4 linked regions of the Homo sapiens genome follow. The protein of the gene in region 4 interacts with the protein of the main gene of each other region in a biochemical or structural test. Each region holds a gene or a part of one and is shown on either strand. Other genes may lie near its edges. The genes, in order: EGLN1, SUV39H2, PCF11 and MAGEA11.

Region 1 (7,039 bases), on a different chromosome or scaffold from region 4:
AAAACACTGTGGAAAATTTTTCTTTAAATAACAGATATATAAACAGGTATTTTGATCTCACCTTAATAAGAGCTCTCATATTTTAGTTATGACCACACAAATTAAACCTTCTTGCATATACACAATGGTACATCTATGACAATTAGAGATAAATGCCTAACCCCACTTCCTTTTGCAGCAGAGGGGTGATACAGATCTGTCAACAGCTATGAATGTTAAAATAATTTTAAAAATCCTACTAAAAGGGCAAGAATTCAAGTGCTGAGAATCCAAACAGACTTCATGGATCCCACAGACAGTCCAATGACCCCAGGGATGTTTCTAAAATTGTTGAACTCCTATGTTTACTGTTCTCTTTCCTTCATTATCATTTACAAAAAGTTATAACAAATGTCCTAGACTAAGCCAGAAAAGCTTTATCTGATGAAAGGGATCATTCGGAAAGCCAATGTATGATAAAGGATTGAAAAACAAAAAAGACAGCTGGAAATAACCACCATAATGTTTCAACAACATTTATACATCTTTTTAATTAGATTAGCTTTACAAGCAACTTGAGAGCTCTTTCATAATGAAACACTGCTTTTCAAATTACATGACTTTATAGTCTATCTGTATATGAATCCTGAAAATCTTTGCCTACTCTTGATAAAGGTCTGTGTTTTACAGCTGGTTAATGTGTTGAATAAAAACAGCATTATGAAGCTTTATCTTTAACCAGGATTAAACACATATAGGCCACAAACAGTTTTAAATTTTGTTTGAAATAGAGTCCTGCTTGGTGACAAGTTAATAGTCCCACTAACATGAAATGAATGGATATTAAATAAATGGCCATCCTGATTTCTTGATCTTTTCACAATGATTCCTAAGAGAGTATATAAACTTTTCCAAAAAATATACAATTTAAGACCTGTCTGGCAAGCACAACCCACAGATAGTAGAATCTAATACTTTTTACAACTGTAGAGGTACACATTTGAATGACAACAGGGGCTCCCAAATTAAAAGGCTGTGGCTGTACATTTTGACAATCAAACAAACCTCCCATCAACATAAAACAATTTCTACTAACCCTAAAAAAGATAATGCTTTTGAGTTGTGGCCTAACGCCGCGCACTGTACTATAGACCAGATGGCAAAGACAACTTGCGCTCCTGGGTTGGGCTGGCAGAGGCACTTACTGTAGAGATGTGATGTTATCATCTGGAAGGAAGGGGAGGAAGTAGAACAAAACTGAATATGGGCGAGGAAAAAACAATAAACTATCACTTTCTCCTGCAAATTCTCCTAAGTGAGATCACTATACTGAACATTCAATCCCATCCTAAGTCCACTGTTGGCTTCACTACACAATTTTTTTCCATGTTTTACATGAATAGCAATGGCAATCTTTTAATAAAAATTACTGAGCTTCCCATAGAAAAGGTCTCAAATTGAATACAAACTATACAGATGCTAAAAATGTCTTAAGTTGAAATATACAGAAAATTTCTGTATACTCACATTTTGGCAAAGAAGATCAAGGACAGAGATAGAAAACCTAAGTGGGCAAGGTCTTACACCCATAATTCACGCAAAATATGGATACCACCCTTTAGGTTTTGCTAAAAAGCCTAGGAAAGTGAAGTCTAAGACATCCGTCCCAATTCATTCTTTAAATAACATGTATGTGAGGCCTTGTGTGATTTTCTAATATTCCTTCCTTGTTTAAAAAGTAAATAAGAAAACCCATGAAACAAAATAAAATTATCTGATTTTGCATCTGTTTTGTTTTTTTCTAAGCTAAGCATCTTTCAGTACAGGTAAGAAGGCTGGCATCACATCTGGGAAATGCCTTAACAGATATCTGAGGAGTTACTGCACATTCCGTCAGTAACACCACACTTCAGTTTCAATGTGTACATAATCTCCCCTTGATGCTCTTCAACAGAGACAAGGTTCTTGTCTGCAGATCAGATAGATCACAGTATTAGGAAAAAAACATAACAGCAAATTTGGAAGTACAATCAATTTAAGGAGAAGCAAAAGGAAAAGACTTAGAAATGGGACATTATTGTCTACATCTAGAGGATACATACACCTGAAAGCTTAAGAAAGCCCTTATCTTAGGAACTTGAAGCTGAGGATAATCTCAAGTTCACTTAGTGCCAGTCACTTTAGTTTTTTAAAAAATTTAACTTAAACCCCAGCCTAGGCAACATGGCAAAACCCCGTCTCTACTAAACATACAAAAATTAGTCAGGCATGGTGGTGTGTGCCTGCAGTCCCAGCTAGTTGGGAGGCTGAGGTGGGAGGATTGCTTGAACCTGGGAGGCGGAGGTTGCAGTGAGCCAAGAATGCACCACTCCCCTCCAGCCTGGGTAACAGAGCAAGACTGTCTCAAAAAAACAAAACAAAACAAAAAAATTTAAACTCTTCTTGTGTCTTTTTCCTTGTAAAACATTAACTAAAAGTTATTGGTAGTAAATGGTGACTGTTTTACAATTAGGTTTCGTTATTGACAATGTCAAAAAAAAAGCAGCAATCTTTAACAGTTCAAATTAGTGTAAGGAAGGACTACAAAACAATCTGATTTTTCAGTTGTAATTAAAGTGCTCCTTTTCTTATTTTAAGTAAAATAAAATTAATCATCAGTCACTGGCAACAATCATTATTAAGAGGTCTTTTAGGGCAAAATTTAATAGTATGAACAGGTTTACAAAAATAGATTGATGTTATTTTGAGGAATAATACTGTAATTTTTTCTCAATTCAGTTTAGATAAATTGTACCTAATATAGAAAAATTATCCCAAATTCAAACTTGATATAAAAAAGGGAGAGATGAAATGAACTCAGCTAGATAACAGATCTGGCAAAATATAAGAATGAAAAAAATTCTACACAGGGCACTTATTTCATATCCAGATGTAAAAACCATTTTCAATTAGTAGCTTATCTTCCTCCTGTAAGCAATCACAGATTTGAAGTTGATCATGCAGTACAAAGTCACAGCAGTCAAAATCTTCTGTTTGATGCAACACAAAAAGTTGTTTCTGTTTCCTTATTAAAATGCGAACTGGTTGTCTATTTTTCTTTATCCCATTTATTCGTATTCACAAGTTAACAAATAGTTAACAATATTGTAGGTGAAGTGGGGTATTGCTGGATCAAAGGCTCTAGAAGACGTCTTTACCGACCGAATCTGAAGGTTTATTGAGTTCAACCCTCACACCTTTTTCACCTGCAAGGTAAAAAAAAAAAAAATTTTCATTCATTCACTAAGCACCAGAGAGCTTCTGCTACTGCATTCCACTGAATTCCTAAGAGTATGGACAATATTTCAACTTTGCAAACATCATCTGAGAACTATCACGCTTGTACTTCCAAAAACTTCCCTCAGCATTCTATTGTGATGAGGTTTCAAATAGTAAACCTTCAAGGATAAAACCATCCTCTACACAGAGATAATGATTTTGTCTTTTTATTTTAAAAGCCATTTGAGTTTCTTCAACAGAGTGTTCAGTGTCTCTGAAAGCACACTGAGCTTGTGCCACAAATAATGGCTTTAAAAATACATAGAAAATGCATGAATATTCCATTTTTATGTAAGGTCGACGTGCGATTAGCAATGGCTCTGGAAAACACAGCTAATCAGTAATGTGAATACTCAGTGGATTTTTGGAGATAGAAAGTAGAGTTAAAGAAAAGAAGGTAAGTGGTCCATCAGATGGGAAACAGACCCCCTGCTCTTGGAGAGGCAGTCCATAAGTGGAAGAGAAGGGGAACTGGCATAATTAAAGGATCTTCAGGTTCAGTACAAGAGTGCTGACCTATGTACACCATTAGCAGATATGGAATCTACATGTCTGTGTCATTTACTGATTTTGGCATTTGAATTCATAATTCTTTGTATTAATTTTCTTCATGTCTACATTTAACATGGAAGACCTAGAGTACTGTTTAGAGCACATCCATTTGAAAAGGAAAGGGTATTAATTTAAGGAGTGAATGAGAGGAAACCATATGGCCGTTACCTAGAGTTAAGTGGCCTTTGACTGAAAAGGATAATCACAGAAAACTCAGTTTGTATGTGAATAATTTACTCAGACTTCTTTGCCTCAAATTTTCCACATCCTTTGACAATTTTTTTGGTTAAAGATAACAGTGAAGATGACTTATGTCTTCTTAAAAAATGAGGCAAATAAGAAATCTGATAAAAAACAAAAAGTAAGTATTCATGGTGTTAACAAAGACTATGCTTGAGTTTCCTGAAAGCATCACCTGATTGCAGGGTATTTCTGTACCAATATATCCTGGCCCCAAATGACGTTTACCTGTTAGATATTTTACTTTAGCTCGTGCTCTCTCATCTGCATCAAAATACCAAACAGTTATTGCGTACCTAAAAGAAAATTTAGAATAGGATAAGAATGATCACACTGCGGGGAAAAAGTGGTATTTTGCTGCAATGGTATATTAAAACTTGTAATGCCAAAATTATGCCTAAACTGGAATGATATCAAAGGATAAATTTAACAGCTTATTTATACAGTAACCAGGGGAGACTAAAATTGATGTCTGAAGTTGATGAGTTTTTGTGACTTTCTTAATACTTATTTCAACTACTTATTTTTTGCAAGGGAACTGCAGATCAGAAAGAGACAATAGGCCGGGCACAGTGGCTCACGCCTGTAATCCCAGCACTTCGGGAGGCCGAAGTGGGTGGATCATGAAGTCAGGACTTCGAGACCAACCTGGCCAATAGGGTGAAACCCCATCTCTACTAAAAAAAAGAAAAAAAAAATTAGCCGTGCATGGTGGCACATGCCTGTAGCCCTAGCTACTCAGGAGGCTGAGAGGCAGGAGAATCGCTTGAACCCGGGGAGGCGGAGGTTGCAGTGAGCCGAGATCATGCCACTGCACTCCAGCCTAGGTGACAGAGTGAGCCTCCCTCTAAAAAAAAAGAGAGACAATAAAAGGGTAAAAGAATGGCTGTTACAGAAAAAGCACATTATCAATAGCACAAGTACTAAAAGAACAGAAAAGAAACAGATAAAAGGACTCAGGGCATTGCAGGCTAACAGTTTCAACAGTCTCTGGGGACATCACTACATTATAGCAAAGAGTAATGATGGATGTTTACAATTATAACCTTGACAGTTAAATTATGCTAAGAATTTTTAAGGATTTTAATCAAAGCAATTATACTGTGTTTTGTGTTTAAACTTTGTCTAAACTTCATTTTTCTGAAAATCTGACTTAGAATATTTCATTCCACCAATAAGTGAGGCATCTCTAGTTTATTAAATACTACAAAAGACATACTTTCTGATACAAATAATGGGGAAAATGTATAAACGCTATAGGAAGTGAAAGTACGCTACAAATCACCAGTTCCTGGGCAGAATATAGCAATTAGTTCAAATATATTGTGGATTGTGGCCAGTGGACACAGGGGAAAAGGCAACATTTATCAGACATACAGCCAGTAATATGACAGAATGAAAAATCACATAATGTATTTTGAAGTAAAGAGTCTGGGAGTTTGGACAACTGGGAGCCTGACGTTTACAGACCCCACCACTGGTGAATCACAGAGCTGAGGTCTAAGGAGGTCTCCTGACTTCCAGACCAGACTCTGCTCTTTCCAGAGTTCCACTACCTTTCTTACCATGTGGCTTCTTCTACTTTTGGGTGGCCTTGGAAATAGGAAAGGGCTCAGATACATAATTTTATGTATCTTTTGCCCATGCCCTAAACTTTTAGTCACTTAGCAATCAGAATTCTAATATCTGGATCAACAACTTACCTTATGTCATTCTAACTTTCCAGCCTTATCACCCATTCTAGATAAGATCAGAATAGGATTCTACTTCAAGAATCCTTTTCGTCGCATGATTTTCCATGCCTTAACTTGAACAACTACGCCTTTTCCCCCAGAACTTTACTAACACGACTGCACCCCTTGCCTCTCCTCACCTAGGCCAGCTGAGCCTCTCCCTTCAAAGCGCACTTGCCCGTCTCTCCAATGTAGCACCACCTTCGTTCCTCAACTCCTGTAGCACTTAGCCTCCATGCCATCTGGCATTTATTTACTATAAACTCCCAAGTATCTGTTATTTATTCATCTAAAAAGGACGTAACCAAACCAAACTCAGGATTTCATAAAAAGGAAGGTCTATGAGGCAGTTACTGTGTCAGAAAATCTTTACAGAAGCAGCAGGGGGCAGAGACAGCACTGGGATGCCACTGGGAAGAGACATGGGATTGAAAAGGGCACATCATGTGATGTGACAGTCTTTCTTTGGTTTCCATTCAGGATTTCTTACAATCTCCAGCTACAACCTGCTTAGCTTGCTACTCAGTACGTGAATTAGGATGCAGGCAACACACCTCAGAAGGCAGGAAGAAAAAAGGCACAGCTGATAATCAAGTCGTTAGAGTCAACCATCATTACTAAAGCCAACTCTCCACCCAGCGCATCTAAGCCTGTGCCTCTTCTTGCCACCCTAGCATCTCCTAAGCCAGATACAGCAAATGAATGCCGGAAGCTCACTATCAGAATGTTCCAAGACCTTTCCATAATAAAAAATAAGTATTTTTTTTTAATGTGCTATTTTTCTACAAATATTTACTTTCATGATAATGTCTACAATATCTTGTTTTCACAGCCAGAGCATTTTAATTGAGTCAGGATAAATGGTTTTTAAAAAAGCATTTGAAATAAAGCACTAAATATAATAGGTTGCAAATACCTTGTAGAAAAAGTATAATGAAACAGATGCTCATTATTTGTAAAGCTAATAGGATCATTTTTCTAACATTAACTCCCACACATGGTAACCTGTTCTCTACTTTTCTTTCTTCTGTTTTTCTCTTCACTTCTACTCTCTGGTTACCTCTGATTTTTCTACTCTGTATCCATTTTCCTATGTTGTCCCTCACCACCTTTTAAAAAACCCTTTTCCTTCTTGATCTTTCTCTCTCCCAAGTAAAATACTCTTACAAAAATCAAAGCATGGATAGTAGTTAAGAGATGCACAAAGCACGGAGAGA
Region 2 (7,482 bases), on a different chromosome or scaffold from region 4:
GGATATGAGCACCTGAAAATATTCTAATGCAAGAACACTTTATGCTTCAAAATCCTCTCAATGCTATTTGGCAACACAGATGATAGGACATATAAATTTATCATGCCTTAGAATTTTAAACATTAAGAAGAGCTTTTCTTTTAATGTTCTTTTTATGTTACAGAAATACGAAATACTGAAGTCTGATTAGGTCTCTTGTAAGGGGCTAGATATTTGCCTTACCTTTACTACCTTGTAGTCACACAAGTATTCCACCTCATAATTGTTTAGATTCCTTTTGGTGATTCCAATCGATTTACATGTGAGCTTTTCTTTTCTACATAATTCCTGAAGAGTATCAAGTGAAACTAGGCAAGGCACACACCAAGCTACAATAAGAAAATAGAATTCTTTACTAATGAAATAGCTATTCAATTAAAACAAAAAAGAGAAACTTAAAACCTCTATTCCCCATCTTTCAACTGGCAATTTTAGACTAAAAATTCCTATGACAAGAAACCAGTTACATGTCTTCAAGAAAAAGTTAAACATTAAGGAACTATTTTGTTAAATTGGTGTTCTTGGATTTTCTCATGGATTTCTATTCCACTACGTTTAACTGACATCAGTTAATTTCCATTAAGTCACTTGAAAATGTTTCATGTCTGTAAGCTTTTTTAAGATTATATACAGATGCAGGTCAACAGAGATAATGTTTTTCACTTTCATTGTATTCTACATAGACTACAATCACTATTTTAATAAAATGTAAATCTCTAGGACACTTATTCTTAAAAACATATCTAAAATATACTTTAAAACAATCTTATAATTTGTTAACACGTAACTTTCATTTTTTTTAACTGGACAAAACGAACTGAAATCTAATTAAAATATATTTCTACGGTTACAAACTCATTATATGTTAGTTTTCTCTTTGATATGTTGCATGAAGCTTTAATTCCACTTATTATTCTACCCATACTGCAATATATTATCACCAAGGTGAATAAACTCCAGTTATTAAAAAAATGGAGTATATCGATATTTTGTAATACTTATGGACTGTACTGTTTTTAAAGCCAAACTTTTAAAACGGTGTTCAATTTACATAAGCCATGTACTAAACTCAAAGAAAATTAGACATACTCATCATCAACCCTCCAGAAACCAGAAACTAATTGCGTTCCAGAAGATTTCACCCTCAAATTTCTGTAAGCAGCATGTTACCACACTGAATTTAAAGTGTAAATTAACACGTTTAGGAAAATGGAACAAACTTGTTGTTAGGGCTAGTGTCATGGTAAGCACTTGACAAAATCAAAAGTCCTCTGCACTACCCATCGCTCGGTCACCGAGCTATGTGACTTTAGTGAGGTCTCAATCTTTTTGGCTGTCAGATTCACTGGAAAAAAATGGAGAAAACTGGTGTTACCAAACAAAATCTATCAGTAAACTCAAGCTTTACTTGGTAGCTCTCCAAGGTAGTTGCGATCACCTTTTGCGTTTTGAGGTAATTTCAGGGAAGGGAGAACACTTGTTAGTGGCAATAACTTTTCCGGCCCCTTTCCTCATCCTCCCCACCTCACACAGAAACTTCATTGTCAGAAACCCTTAAGCATAATTTCTACCATCTCACTGGCTGCAAACGATTCCATCCTAAAGCAGTAAAGACAAAGGTATTTTCCTCCAGAAAACGTGGGGGAAGAGGCTGATTGGCTTTGTAGTGGTCGTTTGGGGGTAGGACAGTGATGGGAAAGAAATGACCCCCTAAGTCCCTTCCATCTACAAAAACTAGAGAACGTTTTGTGTTAAGCTGACCTCATTAAGGGAATCACGTATAAAGGAGGTTCCTCTTATCTACTCAAGGTGTGTTTGTGTGCTTTTCCTAAACATTTTTATCTAGTTGAGGATTCAAAACACAACCCGCAAAGGAAATGCTCTTTGAAAATTAAAAAAAAAAAAAAAGTGAACATGAAAAACTGCAAACACGTGGTTAAAAAAAGAAAGACAATCTCTCGACAGTCTCCAGTAATGCAGAAAAAGATTTCACTGACAAAATTAAATAGTTCATGACCACCACAAACACCTTCCGCTGGTTCACAGTAACCCCTGACATTCTCCAAGGAGAAAAATTCAGGGATAATGAGGTCATAATCCCAGCGGAGAGGAGACGAGCTTGAAAACACCTTTACATTCCGGAACGCACGGAAAAGTTCCAGGCTCTCAAAGCGTGCGCGACACCAACACCCCCCGACGCCCACACCCACGCGCGCTCGGTGCCCAGTTCCCCGGTGCCCAATTCCCCAGCGTCCACAGAAATAACACCAAGCTCCCGGTGGGTGAAAGAGTTACCGTAAGCCAGAGGCTGCAACCTCAAATACCCACTTTCTGGGCGATTCTCCAACGAGGCACTCAACCTCCTAGCGTGTCCGCCTTGGGGGGGATTCCTCGCTTATCCCCTTTCTTAGCACACAGGCGCCCCGATTTACTCTCCCCCTCTGATATTAAGGTCATGTTCACGCCGGCGGGCGTCGCTTCCCGCCTCCCACTTCAAAGGCCCGGGCGCATGCCGCACGCCGCGCTCGAACCACCACAAAGGAGCCAGTCGCAGCCGTGCCCCCCGGACCTCCAACCGGGGACTGCCGGGGAGCGGCCTCGAAGCCCGAGGCCGCCACGGGAGACGCGGAGGGGGCCGGGCCGAGCGGGCGGAGAGGCCACGCTCCACTTCCGAAGTGCCCCAGGCTCGGACAGTGCCCACCTCCGCGGCGGGAGCCGGCCGGGCAGGGAGGCGGGTCAGCGGCCTGGGGGAGGATAGGCGTCCGCAGCGTGCGTCCCGGAGTTGGGGTCGCGGCGGGCGGGGAACCGCCACGTCGCCATCTGGCTGGCCCGCGGGACGGCCCCGCCGCCCGGGCCTTGGGAGCTTGCCTGGGAACAGGGAAGGCGAGGGGGCCGCGCTCCAGCCTCACCTCCTCGCGCCTCGGCCCCGACCGCCGCCATCTTGTAGAGCTTTCATTCAAACTGGCGCGGTCTGACGGGATAGCTCAGCTGGCCCGACGCCCCGCCCCTGGCCGGCCCGCGCGGGACTTGGGGGCCGGGGCTTGTTGGGGGACGGAACCCGCACGGCGTCCTGACGTCACTGGCGGCCGACCCCCCGCCGCGGCGGCCAGCGCGCCTGCGCCCCAAAGCTAGGCCCGGCCCCAAGCGCGAGGAGCGGGGCGGGGCGAGCGCGCGTGCTCCCGGATCCTCGGCAGTGTCCGGCGCCCCCTTCCCTTCGCCAGGCCCGTTTGGCGCCTTCACTCGGGAAGACGTCGGCCAGGACTTTGCGCTTTGGAGACGTCTTACTTCGGCAGCACTCGCACACTGCGAGATCCGACACGGGCAGCGGGGACCTAGGGAGCCGGGGACGCTGCCTGTCGGGTACGGTTCCGCAGCTACCGCAGCCCCGTGGGCCATGGTTAGTCTCCCCCCGACACCGCTCCCTCTAGAGCTCCGGGCTTCGGAAGCGGCTGCACGTGGGCATGGCTGGAGAGGTTCCGCTGGCTTGGGGCAGTCGCCGGGATTCCGACTGGTTGGTGTGGGGTGTGGCCTGTGCTATCCAGCTCCCAGCTGATCCTAATGTGCGGCACAGCGGAAACCACCGGTCCACATCAGTGCTTCTCACTTAAAGGGGCTTACGAATCGTCGGGGGTGGGGGAGCTGGACTTGGAATTTTTTAAGAGATGAGGTCTCACTCTGTCACCCAGGCTGGAGTGCAGTGGCGCGATTACGGCTCACTGCAGACTAGACCTCCTGGGCTCAACTTTAATGTAAATTGGGATTGGGTAGGTCTGTAAGGGGACCCGAGCTCCCCTCCCATGTTGTTGCCAAGCTCCTGAGCTCGGCCTGGTGGCGGGTGGGGGCCGGGAGGAGAAGGACACGTTAGTAAGGAAGCTGCAGGACGACTCCAGGGGCCTCCCACCTGGTCTCCACCCCCCTCCCCCACCCATTCTTGACGCTGCATCCATGATTGTTCTAAACAACCTAAAGCAGAAATCTTAGAGCAAATAACGAAAACTGGCAGAAGGCCATTTGATATCTCCTTAAAAAATTCATGTAAAAAATTACATAAACGTTTCAAAGCAGTATGTATAAATTTGAAATACTGGAAATGAACGCAGACCATTAAAGGAATAGTTAATTATTTGATTCCATTATGAAATACTGTCTAGCCGTCTTAAAAAGGTGTTCATGAAGCTTTTAGTATTCAGCAAAACCAAAACAAATCCCCCTGAAATATAGTTTTAACTATGGAAGAAAAAAATGTATAGGAAAATAACGAAATAGCCTTTTCGGAGTGATTTTCTTTTTAACTTCTCGTTTTTAAATATTTAATCATTTTCTACGATGGGAAACACCACTTCCTCACACACACTCATGCTCCCAGACTTTATTTAGCTACAAACGGCATCATAATACAAATACTGTTCTGCAGTCCGTGTGTGTTTCAATGCAACTGCATTTCTCAGACATGTTTCTAAGATTTGAGTCCTTAGTAAATTTTGTATTCCATATCTCATTACCTTGAGATAAGGAATAAAAGGCCCTGTCCAACCCTGTCACCTGGAAGAGCATCCAGGCCCTTTAAGGCTTAGTCTATCTAGGATTATGCCTTCAGACTTGGATACAGCCTCCCGTCCTAACCGGCCCCTGTATTCATTACCTCTCCTGTATGTTTTCAGAGCCCACCAAGGAGCGGCCATCGCTACTCACTGGCCACTCTTGAATCCTTTTTGGCTCCTTTTCCTCAGTCCAACCTGGGTTCCTCAGAGAAGAGACTGTAGTCCTGGGACTGCATTTCTTTTCCGCCCTCTCCCTATGTGACTGCCCCAATTCCCATGGATTTAAATAGCATCTTGACACACAAGATGCCTCACTTATCGTCTCCGGCCCTGGCCTCTGCCTGAATTCCAGGCTAGAATATCCACAGTGCGTAATGGACATATGCCCTTAGGTGTTGCACAAACATCTCAAATTGAACATATCCGGAAAAATACACTTCTGAACTTCGTAGCATTCAGAATAAAACTCAAACCTCCAGATGGCCGGCAGGGCCTCCAGTGATGGGAATCCTGTCTCACCTCACTTGGTGCCACTCTCCCCTTTACTCATTTTCCTGGCCTTTCCCCGGCCCCACTTACCCAGAAATCTTTTACTGTGCATCTCCTATGTGCCAGGCACCTGATAGGTGCTGGGAATATAGCAGTGGATGAGAAAGAAAAAAGACCCAGTCCTCATGGAGCTGACTTCCTAGTGACAGGAGCAGCGGATAAAGCAAATCACTGAAGGCAGCTGGAAATTACTTTCCGGTTAAGAGGACAGGCTCCTTCCCCTCCTCACATGGCTACCTTCAGATCACTTGGGTCTCAGCTTAAACACCACCTATTGACAGAGGCCTCGCATGTTACCTCATTCTTTAGCCCTACTTTGCATCCTTAAAAAGCACTCATCAAAATTTGCAATTATCTTGTCGGGTTTTTGTTCTTTGGTCTTGATTCATAATGAATGCATCGCACTATTTTGTAAATCCAGTGTTTCGTTTCGTGTCTTGAATCCCATCCATTCCAGCGCATAGATGAGGCCCTGTCTGTTCAACATTCATCACCGTGTTTACTATCTAGAGCAGCAATTCTCAAAGTATGGTAATTGGGACCCGAAGACTCTTCACAGGGTTCATGAGCGCAAAACTATTTTCAGACCAACATGTTCTCTGCCTTCCTTCGCTCATGAGTACATAGTGGAATTTTCTAGAGGTTACACAATTTGAATATTGCAACACATTGAACGAAGACGCAGGTACCAGAACATAGCTATCTCCTATTAAGCCAGACATTAAAGAGATTTGAAAAAATACAAAATACTGCTTTTGGCTAGGCAAAGTGGCTCGCACGTATAATCTTGGCACTTTGGGAGGCTGAGGAATTGCTAGAGACCAGCCAGGGCAACCCTACTAAAAAATTAGCTGGGCGTGGTGGCACATGCCTGGGGTCCCAGCTACTCAGGAAGCTGAGGTGGGAGGATCGCTTGAGCCCAGGAGTTTGAGGGTGTAGTGAGCTATGATCAAACCACTACATTGCAGCCTGGGCAACAGAGCAAGACCCTGTCTCAAGACAAAAAACAAAAAATAAAACCCCAGATACCACCCTTGCCACTAATTTTTTGTCTTAGAAAAATTATTTCTCATAAAAAATTAACTTTATTACTTAGAAATAATTTTTAAAATTGGTTTTAATTTCCATATGGTAACTATAGTTATATAACTACATTTTATGTATATGTAACAAACAAAAGCTCTATGGGTTCTCAACATGTTATTTTTTAAGACTATAAAGGGTTCCTGGGACTAAAATGTTTGAGGGTGTTGGTAAATCCTGGCTATAAATGGAGAGAGAAATAAAAAGCCACTGAGAGACACACACCAGGGTCCTCAAGGGAAAAGTAGAGAATCATGACCCTTTCCCAGTATTTTTTTCACAAAGACCACATGATTTCTGGAGTGTCTCCTCTTCTACTGAAATAAACGTTCTCTTCTGAGAGGCAAAGAATCATAGAATGAACACTAGATTAAGAATGTGAATTTAAATGAAATAATCCATGTAATGTGCTTAAAATAGTAAGCAGTCAAGAAAAATTAAGTTTACAAAATAAGCATCTGAATGTTAGTTCAAAATCCACCATTTATTCACTGTGAGACCTTGGATACTTTATTTAACTGCTGTGAATCTATTATCTGGAAAACAGAAATAACCAAGGCCATATTACTCTCTACATAGTACAACTACTCGTGGAATTGTGATGAGATCAAAATTTTAAAATGAGATAATGAATTAAAGCAAATAACAGTATTATATGGTCACTCATTATCATTTTAGATATTGTGATTTTTCCCATAGAACTTTTATGCTAGGATACTTTTAAGAATTCTTATACATATAAAAGCTTTCAGTTTGTGATGAATATTTTGTGACCTCCTGTTAAGGACTGAACGTTTTCATCTCTGAAAAATTCCAGTGTTGAAATCCTCGCCCCCAAAGTGATTATATTGGGAGGTGGGGCCTTTGGGAGGTGATTAAATCATGAAGGTGGAGGCTGCATGCATGGGATTGACACCCTTACAAGAGGGACCCTTCAGAGCTCTCTCGCCCTCTATCCTCCGTGTGAGGTTATAAGGATAGCTGGCAACCCAAAAGGGAGCCCTCATCAGAACCCGGCCCCGCTTCCAGCCTGGTCCAGCACCCGAACTGACTTCCAGCCTCCAGAACTATGATACATTTCTGATGTTTACAAGCCACCCCCCAGACTATGGTACTTTATTATAGCAGTCCAAACTAAGACACGTTCCAAGACTTTCACATCATAGGTATTTCTTCCTATTTTTATATTTGGCTCTGTTCTTCAGACAATGTCAGATGTAAATAGGCAAAACTATAATTTGACATAAGCTTTTAGTGGTAAAAGTGTTTA
Region 3 (7,039 bases), on a different chromosome or scaffold from region 4:
GATGAGGAGGTTTACTATGTTCATCAACCTGTTGTAAGCTGAAACCATAAAAGCAGTATGTTACATTGAAATGTTTTTTTAAAAAATACTCAGGACCATATTTAAAGATTCTTTTCAAAGGATATGGTTAAAATGGGCATATGTAACCACAAAAAGTAATTAAATAAATGATTAAGAGCACAAAATATGAAATCAGCAAAAACAGATATGAATTCTGATTCTTGCATGTCCTGGACTGCAGCCTTAGGTAGATTAGTTAACCTTTCTAAACTTCAGTTTCCTTATCTGTAAAATAGAAATAATAATAGTATTTAACCCACAGAGATGTAAGAATTAGATGGAAAAAAAGTACTAATAGCACCTAATAAACATTTTCCAATTTTTAAATTAACACTATCTTTTGAAACATATACACTACTACACTTGACTTAAAATGTTAACATCATACCTTTTATTTTCTTCCCAACCAGATTTCCATCTTTTGGCAGACTTGGAACTTTGCCAGTTTTCTACATTCTCCTTTGGTTCAGTGCCTGACTTTGTAGAATGCTGATTTGTAGTTTCTTGTGGTCGCTCCTCTTCAGTCTTTTTCATTCGCCTTGGATCCCGAATATCCTGTTTAGTACTTCTCTTAGCATTTCTGTCTTCCCTAGAAGGTGGTGTAAACTCTTCCATATGTGACTGCTTAGCTCCAGATTGGCGAATCTTTCCAGCTTTAGGTGTCGATGTTGGAGACATACTTCTTTGCCTTCGTTTGGGTGACCGCCTATCTCTTCTCTTTGGGGAATGTATAATTGGTGACCTAGACTTGGGTGATCGAGATCTTGATCGCTTTCTAGTACTCGATCTCCCTGGTTTTGTCCCCTGTTTTTCTGACTCTTCTGTTATTGTATCCTGTTTTTGTACAATGCCATTTATGATTTTATTTCTACTTCCAGCCAGTCTGTGTTCGGATGACTTCATGTGCTCATCTTTATCCTTTTTTTCTGCAGTTTTTCTCTTCTCTTTCACATCATCATCTTTGCCATCGGTCTTATCCTGAAGATGTTTTTTTAATCTTGGATCTCTCTTGTTCATATCAGACAACCTCATACTTTCCGATTCTTGATTTTTCAAGTCTTTTGTGTGAGATAATTTGTTTTTCAAAGGTGAGGGTGATTTCGATTTCGATTTCGATTTAGAATCTAATTGGTCAAGTTCTTTCTTGGTTATTTTTTCACCTGATTTACTTTTTTCTTGCTTGGATGAATTTAGTTTTTCAGAGGGTATAGTTTTACTTGTCTTAGTATCAGACTGGTTTAATGTGTTCATTAGAAATTCTTTCCTGTGACTCTGATCTTTTCCATGAGAATGTTGGCTTATCCTGTTCAGACGAGGATCCCGGTTAGTTCCTTTTAAATCCTGAATTTGTAAGGATGGTCCTGGACGGCTTTTCTCAGATTGCACAGGAACCTGATGAGGAGCTTTAACTGCCATAGGGGGAATCTGTGAAACATGTAATTTGGATGGTGCAGATCCAGGACCTAAATTGGATGTTTCCTGCTGAACACTAAGAGAAACTGCCTAAAACACAAAATAAATGTTCATGTTAACACTGCAGAACATGCAGATTGTCAAGAAATTGCAAACAACTGAAGAAGATAATGCTTTATTCAATAAATATATTTACTCAACACTACATTTAAATTGTACACTTATAATGTATAAATTGAGATTACAATGAAAAGAAAAAGTCCATGATTTAAGTTGCCCATTATTTCTTACTAGTATTTTTTGAGACTTTATAATATAATCTCTAAATAGAATGAAAAAAAATTGTTTCTCTTCCTTATTGTTCAGGATTCTGAGCCATACTGCTCCTAAGAAATTGCTAAATCACTACACTCCGGCTGCACAAGAATCAGAGTCATTTCAGCTAAATTCTAAGTCCTAAAATTTAGTTTCTCCCAAAGTGGTGCTATTAATGAACTTATAAAATTCTGCCTTCCTGCACCTCACTGTCGAATAAGCTCAGATGCTAAGCAAAATAACTTAGTATAAAGTCATTTATGTGTAGAAAGATATAATCTTCCTGGCCTCCTTAATTTTGTCATTTCTGTTCATGGAGCATAAGCTCATAAAACATTAAAGACTATGCAAAAATATTTGCCACAACATGCCTACCATCTTGGGACTGAAATATTAAGTCCACATAATGTAATGATTAAACAAAATTAAGATGCTATTTTATAAGATAGCAATCTAACAGAAAACTGTTTGGAGGAAATAGTGTAGTTTTGTAGTTTTTGGAGGGTTTTCTTGAGACAGGGTCTTGATCTGTCACTCAAGCTAGAGTGCAGTGAAGCAATCATAGCACACTGCAGCCGCAAGTGATCCTTCCAACTCAGCCTCTCGAGTAGCTGGGATCACAAGGATGCACTACCCCACCTGGCTAATTTTTTTTTTTTTGGTAGGGCCTCACTATGTTGCCCAGGCTGGCCTCAAACTCCTAAACTCAAGCGATCCTCCCACCTCAGACTTCCCAAGTGTTGGGATTACAGGCATGATCCACTGCGCCTGGCCTATGCAGTTTTTAATCAAGTGAATTTTACAATAAAGATATAAAAGTATAGTCTAATAAATATACTCATTTGTAAAATAAAAGTGAAAAAAGAGTACACTATTAATAAAAGTAACATGTTAATAAAATTCAAACATAAACATTACTTCCCTATTGTTAGACAGGTTTAAAATATTTAAAATGACAATCTCCCTTACTTACCAACTGTGCCTTAGCTTGCTCTAGCTCAAGCTCCAGCTTTTTCTGCTGAAGTTCTAACAACTGTTTTTGCTTTGCCAGTAACTGCTGCCTTATTAGTTGTTCTTGTGTAAGATTCTTTTGTATATCAGGAACAATTGGAGGAGTGGAGATGCTAGGGGAACTGACCACTGTACCAGGTGTTGAAGGCTCCTCGGGCTATAAGAAAAGACAATTTGTTTAAGAAAAACGTATCAGCTAAAACGGAAGCTAGGGAGTAAAAATTATCAGCTTAACTCTTAATATGATCCAAATTCCTATCACACAGAAAACTTATCAGAAATTTAAAACCCAAAATAAATGTTACATAATACCTAAACAAGGTGAATATATTTCTAAATAAAAATTCCAAACATATACACACTATTTTTTTTTTTTTCAAATTGAACCAATTCACTACCGAGTATTCTATTTTGACTTTCTGGCAGTAAGTTCTGCAGAAGAATTCAAAATGTGATACTTAAAAGTATGTTACTTACTATTCATATTAAAACTTACCGATTTATTTAAAAATTTAGGATTCACATGGATGCTAGACGTATTCACATTGGGGGGTAGAGGTTTAATAGGCCAAGCAGGATCTAATGAATTGACTCTGACATCCAGGGCATAAAGTTTCTTCAAAGGGAATATTTCATCCCATGTAGAACGTAACTTAAATAAACTTTTCCTAGTATTTTCATCCACCTAGAACAACAGAACAATTCTATGGCTTGTTAAGTTACTATAGAATATTTTATATATTAAATATAAGTTATATAAATCTGCTCTACTTCACATACAGAACTGTACTACCCATTGGTAAGTATATACAACAGTAATAATTTATTAAAGGTGCATTTCTCCTTCAAAAACAGAGTAATTAAAACCATTTTCACCTAGCCTTCATGCAAGCAACCAACCAGGTGAGCCTTTCTATATACAAAACGTTTCCACATCTTAGAGCTTAGTATAATATTCCTAAAGTTACTCTTTCTCTGGGAAAAAAAAATGTAAGACAACTAGAAAATATAAAACTAAAAAATATAAAACAACTAGAAAAATTGATTACCTGATGGCTTAAATGTTTTAAATTATTTACATAGTAGTACAAAGTTAAAATTAAAGCAAAACTATCTCACTAACTAATGCTCAGCAATACTATATGGTTGGGTACATAGGAACAAGATATTGTGGTGTGGAAAGCACTTTAACAACTGAAATTCACAAAATCTTAACCACTGATAAGCCTTAGTTTTAAATAACTTTTCTGTTCAGGTTTGTGATGGCGTAAAAATGTTTAGAAAATTTGCCATTGCCAGGCACGGTGGCTCACGCCTGTAATTCCAACACTTTGAGAGGCCGAGGCAGGTGGATCACCTGAGGGAGTTCAAGACCAGCCTGACCAACAATGGTGAAACCCCGTCTTTACTAAAAATACAAAATTAGCCAGGCATGATGGCTCATGCCTGTAATCCCAGCTACTCGGGAGGCTGAGGCAGGAGAATCACTTGAATCCGGGAGGCGGAGGTTGCAGTGAGCCGAGATTGTGCCATTGCACTCCAGCTTGGGCAACAAGAGCAAAACTCCATCTCAAAACAAAAAAAAGAAAAAGAAAGAAAATTCGCCATCAAGAAACCTAGGACTTGGGAAAACTGAGTTAGATTTTCAACATTAGGATAGACAGTAAAGCCTTAACTATATTCATAAGTCTTCAGATAATAATGTATTTATTACAAGGTCATTTTAATCAACTGTCATGTTAATGCCCAGTTAGATTCAGTAAAGGTATGCTACCAAACACCCAAGTGAATTTGAACATACTGAAACCGAAACCAAGAGGTTGGTTAAGCTTCTCCTTAAGACTACAGCCTCTGGTTAGCAGTATTCAGCAAATGTCTACAATATTCTATTAACAAGCATTTTAATGCTATATGATATAGAGCTTTCCAGATTTCTTCTGCATATACTGTTTTTCTCTAAGAACTTAAAAACATTTCTCAAATAGCAACTACTTATTTTCTAATAAACATGTAAAATCTAATACTGAATAGTTCTTCCAAAAAAAATTCCAATTCTACAAATCTGACAACTGACACACAGGTGTTCATCTACTAAAATATAATAACTACCACCAAATATTGACGTTAGGAAACAATCTTTAAACCTAAGTATCTCATAAGTGCCTTTTTGTTCAATGTGAAAGATATAGCCTGACAGGCAGAGAATTACCTCAGCAAATCCCTTGTCCTCCTCAACATAATACTGCTTTAACCAAACCACCATGTTACAGTGTTATGGAAGAAATTTACAATCTCTAGATATGAAAAATAAGCCTAATTTCTGAACACTAAGGTAGGGGCAAAAGTATTTCCAGAATAACCAACAGCAATTAACTGGTCCACCATTCACACATACCAACAACATTCACCTAAAACATACCTTGAACAATGTAACAAAAGTAAACATTTCCAGAAAACAAAACAAAAAAACACACAAGTTTCAGGAACCAATCACAGGTTGAGACACTGAGGGATTATGCTTTTTACCCCCCCAAGAGAACAGTCAACATCCTAACACCAGAAATGTAAACAATGAAATTTTAATTACTCTTGACGATTTCAGATCTTTTTGCCTGGTTTGTAAGTGATGAAACAGATGTTCAAATGAACACACTCAATTTTTTTAAAAAGCACAATTCTAAAAGCAAATCCATCTATTCTTAAATGGATAATGTAAACCCCTAGAATCTGTTCTAAAAATCTAACATAAAACATTAACTTCAGCCTCTTTCTTTGAAATGGTACTAACGATAAATGTCCAAAAGTATAAAACATTTCACCACCCAAGAAAACCCAACACAAAGCAAATATTTATTTAATCAGGAACACATTTTTTAAAAAAAAACGCAAATGTTTCTAAATGCATATGTACCTTTTCAAACACACAAATAAATGTTGCAACTAGATTTTTAGTAAAGGCAGTGAGATACTCTCTTCCAACGTTTTTCACAATAGAATCCATAAGGTACATAACAGGAAGCTTCTCTGAGGAAGGAGCCTGAATAAAAAGAAACTGAGAAGTTTAGTATAATGAATTACCACCAAATAATTATTTAAAAATGAGTTTTTAAACCTACAATACAGACCTCTATTTTTGTTGATACTAAATATTTTTGAAGTAATCTTTATGAAACTTAAGTGTTCAATCAAGCTCTCAACTCTCACAATCCTTAGTTGAGCACAAAAAAGCTCAGAATTACCAGGATGAACAACAGCTGTAATCCCTAATATACTCATTTAACACTCAATGAAATTTCAAGTTCATGTGGTAAAAAGACCTGTGTTTTAAGTGACAAAAATAAGGAGGAGGCGAGGGAAAATTACTTTATATAATCCAAGTGTCAGTTTTGTGACCCATATTAACTTACAACGGTGTGCCTACACTCAAAGCAGTTTTTAGACCTCTTGTAGAAACTAATTTCCATGGGCATATTTTATATGTTCAAGTCTATGAAGCTTTTGTTACCTGTAAAATCATTAGGATTACTTCTCTATAATCCAAATGAACAAAAATTAAAAACACTTCACCTAGGAAGTCAATGGCAAAACACTGAAACTTGCACACGAACATGCAGGAAGTTGCAAGTTTGTTACTCAGACAAGAAAAACTGGATGGAGCAGCCGCTGAATCATGTAAATCAGGTTGAACTTGACTCTGGAAACCAGGATTTGTCCTGAAGATTTTCTTCACAGCCTGGACTCTCCGCCGAGATATTTTCCTCTGACATGCACAAACCAGGGGTTATAAATTTGTGCAGAGCCAGTGTGGTGATGCTGATACAGGTGGCCCTTTCCAAAGTAAAGAAATGTTGCCCCAGTTCAACTGCAATGCCTACCCACCACTGGCTTTTAGAAGGCACAGCAAGCTTCCAGAAAGCATCAGCAGGTTCACAGACTTGTTGAGGAGCATTAAGACACACCATAATAGTTTTAACTCTGACTCCAAAGGAGCACCCATGATTTAAAATAAAAAAAAAAGACAAAAAAAAAAAAAAAAAAAAAACTTAGGTTATCCCCATTTACCCACCCCACGTGTATAGGAATCTTAACCCTAAGTAACACTTACCCATAGCTGCCTGAAGCTAGGGTAGGCTCACAGTTCTGGAGTACACAATGCCATCATATATAATAAAACCAATTGCCCATACAAGTGTGTGGAAATGCTCTTGCTTCTGATAACACCTTTACAACCAAAAGTTGG
Region 4 (2,748 bases):
GTACCACGTCCACAGTGTCCTTCTTTTGGCCACTTGAGAGACATTATGCAGTACTGAGAAAACAAATGAATTAAGGGACAGAGGTGTACTTCAGGCTGCAAAGAGTGAGAATAGAATGGGCTCTAGATGAATTCAGGCCAACCTTGTGGTTTACCAGTGATATGATCTTGGGAAAGTTACCAAGCACCATGAGACTCAGGTTCATCCAGAAAATGGGTTTGATAGACCATTTTTTTAGGACTGTTGTAATGTATAAAATGTATTAAAACACCTGGGATGATGCCTGGCATGTACTGGATATTTAATGATTGACAGCTATTTCTAGTATTACTGTGACCCCAGGTGCTACCACTCTCTACTTTGGAATATTTTTTATTGTCCAGGACATCTCAGAGAATCTGCAACTCAGTAGGAAACTGCATTTCCTTGGTGAATATGTATGTGGGGGGAGGGGGGTGTACATGTGTGTATGGGTGTGTACTTTCATAGAACAACAGATTAATATGGATAAGAAGACAAGAATTAATGACCTTCTCCTTTTATTTCTCTGTTTCACAACACCAGTTCAGCTTTATTGTTAAGTTCTTACATTCTCCAAGAAAATACCTATTGCAAATCACAGCAAGATGGAAGATTTCCCAAAATGTTTTACAAAATGGCAAACACTTGCACTTGAAATGGATAAGCAAAACAACATGTGTGGTCAGTATCATCCATACACTTAGATGTTGAAGCTAACTAAAACTTTTATTACAGGAACAATATTTGAAAATTACCAAAGGGAAACAAAAAGAAATCTCCAAGTCACCCGATGGAAGAGAAACCTAAAGGCAGTATACAATGTGTTCCCTTCCATTCACTGTGCCTTCTACTACTGAGAACACTGACTTCTCTCATCAAACACAGAGGGAAGAATGGGCCTGATTTCACACAGGACAGGGAAACTGCTGGGTGTGGCCCTGAAGCATGCATTGGCCCATTTCCCTGCCCGCTGGCCCTGGTTGCATCTCATGCTCAGACTCCCTCTCCCTCCTCTCTCAAAGCATCTTCATACAGGGATGGGTAAGAAGTGGGATCCCTCCCATTGGCATTGGCTATGTACTCAAGAACTTTCATCTTGCTGGTCTCAGCGTGGGCCCTTGGACCCCACAGGAACTCATAGCATGCAGGATCAGTGCCGGGCACCTGCCGGTACACCAGGTACTTTTCCTGCACCCAATTTTGGGTAAGGAGCCTCTTGGGCTCCCCAAAGAGGAAGTGCTCCCTTCCAGCATACACCCCCATAATGCTCAGGACTTCCCACATAACCTCTTCAGGGATGCAGTTCCCCTCCATGAAGATTACACCCAGGACTATTATCAGGAGGCCAGACTTGGGCATGCTCTGCTCATTACACTGTATGCCATCATAAGAGAGGTTGAGGGAGGTGACAAGGACATAGGAGTGGCTAGTGGGGTCCACTTCCTTCACATCAATGCCAAAGAGCAGTTGCATGCATACAGAGGCTTCCCTAAATATCTCAGGAAAGTAGTCCTCATAATTTTTGATGACACTCCCCAGCATTTCTGCCTTTGTGATCAGCCCCTTGACTCGATACTTGCGGAGCAATAAATGAACCAAATCAATTATCTTGTCATGTAGTATATCTTGGGAAAAGGACTCAGGGTCTATCAGGTCAGGCGAGGTACTTGGCCCCTCCTTTTCTTGGCTGCCAGAGCCCTCATCAGATAGGCTCCCAAAGATGGCATCCATGGCAGTGGGAGAGAAGGACTCTTCCTGAGGACTCTGGGGAGGACTTGGTGACTCAGCAGCAGGCAACTCCTCTAGAGTGCCCACATTCAGAGTAGAGGAGAAGAAGGCAGCCTCCTGCTCCTCAGCTTGGAGAGCCTGTGCACCCACCAGGCCCAGGTCTTCTTCTTGGGCCTGAAGGCCTTCCTCAGGCTTGCAGTGCTGACTTCTTTGCTCAAGAGGCATGATGACTCTGGTTAGGTCAGCAGGCCGAACTGTGGGAAATATCTGGGTGATGGGGCCCCACAGCCTGGGGAGAGAGGGAGCGTGAGAACAGACTCAGATGAGATATGAACCATGGAGAATCTAACAAAGGCCTACTTACACTTGTTCTCCTCCAGTGATCCTCTGGGTTCTCCTGGGACTCCTGTCCTCCAGGTTGGCCTGTTCTCTAAAAACCTGAAAAAGGAAGTGAGAAGGCTGCTCAAGATGCAGCTGGACATCAGAGCAGGAGGCTCCAGGACTGAGGTAGGGCAGGTGAGGTTGCAAGCTGGGGGTCCCTTTCTGTACTGGGGCAGGTGGGGCCATTTGTAGATTAAGGGTGAACATCTCATCTTGACTACTGGCACTGCCTAGGCTTCCTGTGTTCTGAGATCTGAAGACATTGCTTGAGACCAAGGCCTCACTGCTCAGTTTTTGGAGCTTCTAGAAGAGGAATCATGGGGCCATCAGGCTGCAGACTGCAAGCACCCATCCTGGCACCCCAGCACTGTCAGAAAGGTGGGCCAAACTCTGTGAGTTTCTCACTTTTTTGGAGTGGATGGTCCCCTCTGTGCTCAGGGCCCTCACCTTTCTCCTGCCAGGGCCTGGAAGACACAGCTCTCCTGACCTGAGAAACTCTCAGATCAATAGCTCTTTCCTGATATGAAAGAGGACATGTGGGGATACACATCTGGCCACATGTACACAGGGCTACCCAGGAAGGACAGCAAGAGATGGTGACAGTCAGCAGGGTCCATG

Evidence for each region.
Region 1: the proteins of MAGEA11 (region 4) and EGLN1 form a complex in vitro, tested with the Homo sapiens proteins (one study listed by BioGRID).
Region 2: the proteins of MAGEA11 (region 4) and SUV39H2 form a complex in vitro, tested with the Homo sapiens proteins (one study listed by BioGRID).
Region 3: the proteins of MAGEA11 (region 4) and PCF11 form a complex in vitro, tested with the Homo sapiens proteins (2 studies listed by BioGRID, with this or other methods).

The regions. Positions count from the first base shown.
Region 1 is NC_000001.11:231,363,252-231,370,290, forward strand, and holds the end of EGLN1 (egl nine homolog 1), read right to left. Parts: intron 6,593-7,039; exon of another isoform or gene 6,303-6,592; intron 4,386-6,302; coding exon 4,318-4,385; exon of another isoform or gene 4,316-4,317; intron 3,225-4,315; coding exon 3,160-3,224; 3' UTR 505-3,159; downstream 1-504. UniProt on the Homo sapiens protein: Cellular oxygen sensor that catalyzes, under normoxic conditions, the post-translational formation of 4-hydroxyproline in hypoxia-inducible factor (HIF) alpha proteins.
Region 2 is NC_000010.11:14,874,386-14,881,867, reverse strand, and holds the start of SUV39H2 (histone-lysine N-methyltransferase SUV39H2), read right to left. Parts: upstream 3,003-7,482; 5' UTR 2,980-3,002; coding exon 2,949-2,979; exon of another isoform or gene 2,335-2,948; intron 369-2,334; coding exon 223-368; intron 1-222. UniProt on the Homo sapiens protein: Histone methyltransferase that specifically trimethylates 'Lys-9' of histone H3 using monomethylated H3 'Lys-9' as substrate.
Region 3 is NC_000011.10:83,160,124-83,167,162, reverse strand, and holds part of PCF11 (pre-mRNA cleavage complex 2 protein Pcf11), read right to left. Parts: intron 5,837-7,039; coding exon 5,711-5,836; intron 3,485-5,710; coding exon 3,296-3,484; intron 2,957-3,295; coding exon 2,762-2,956; intron 1,564-2,761; coding exon 449-1,563; intron 39-448; coding exon 1-38. UniProt on the Homo sapiens protein: Component of pre-mRNA cleavage complex II, which promotes transcription termination by RNA polymerase II.
Region 4 is NC_000023.11:149,715,043-149,717,790, reverse strand, and holds the end of MAGEA11 (melanoma-associated antigen 11), read right to left. Parts: intron 2,188-2,748; coding exon 2,114-2,187; intron 2,039-2,113; coding exon 1,015-2,038; 3' UTR 523-1,014; downstream 1-522. UniProt on the Homo sapiens protein: Acts as androgen receptor coregulator that increases androgen receptor activity by modulating the receptors interdomain interaction. May play a role in embryonal development and tumor transformation or aspects of tumor progression.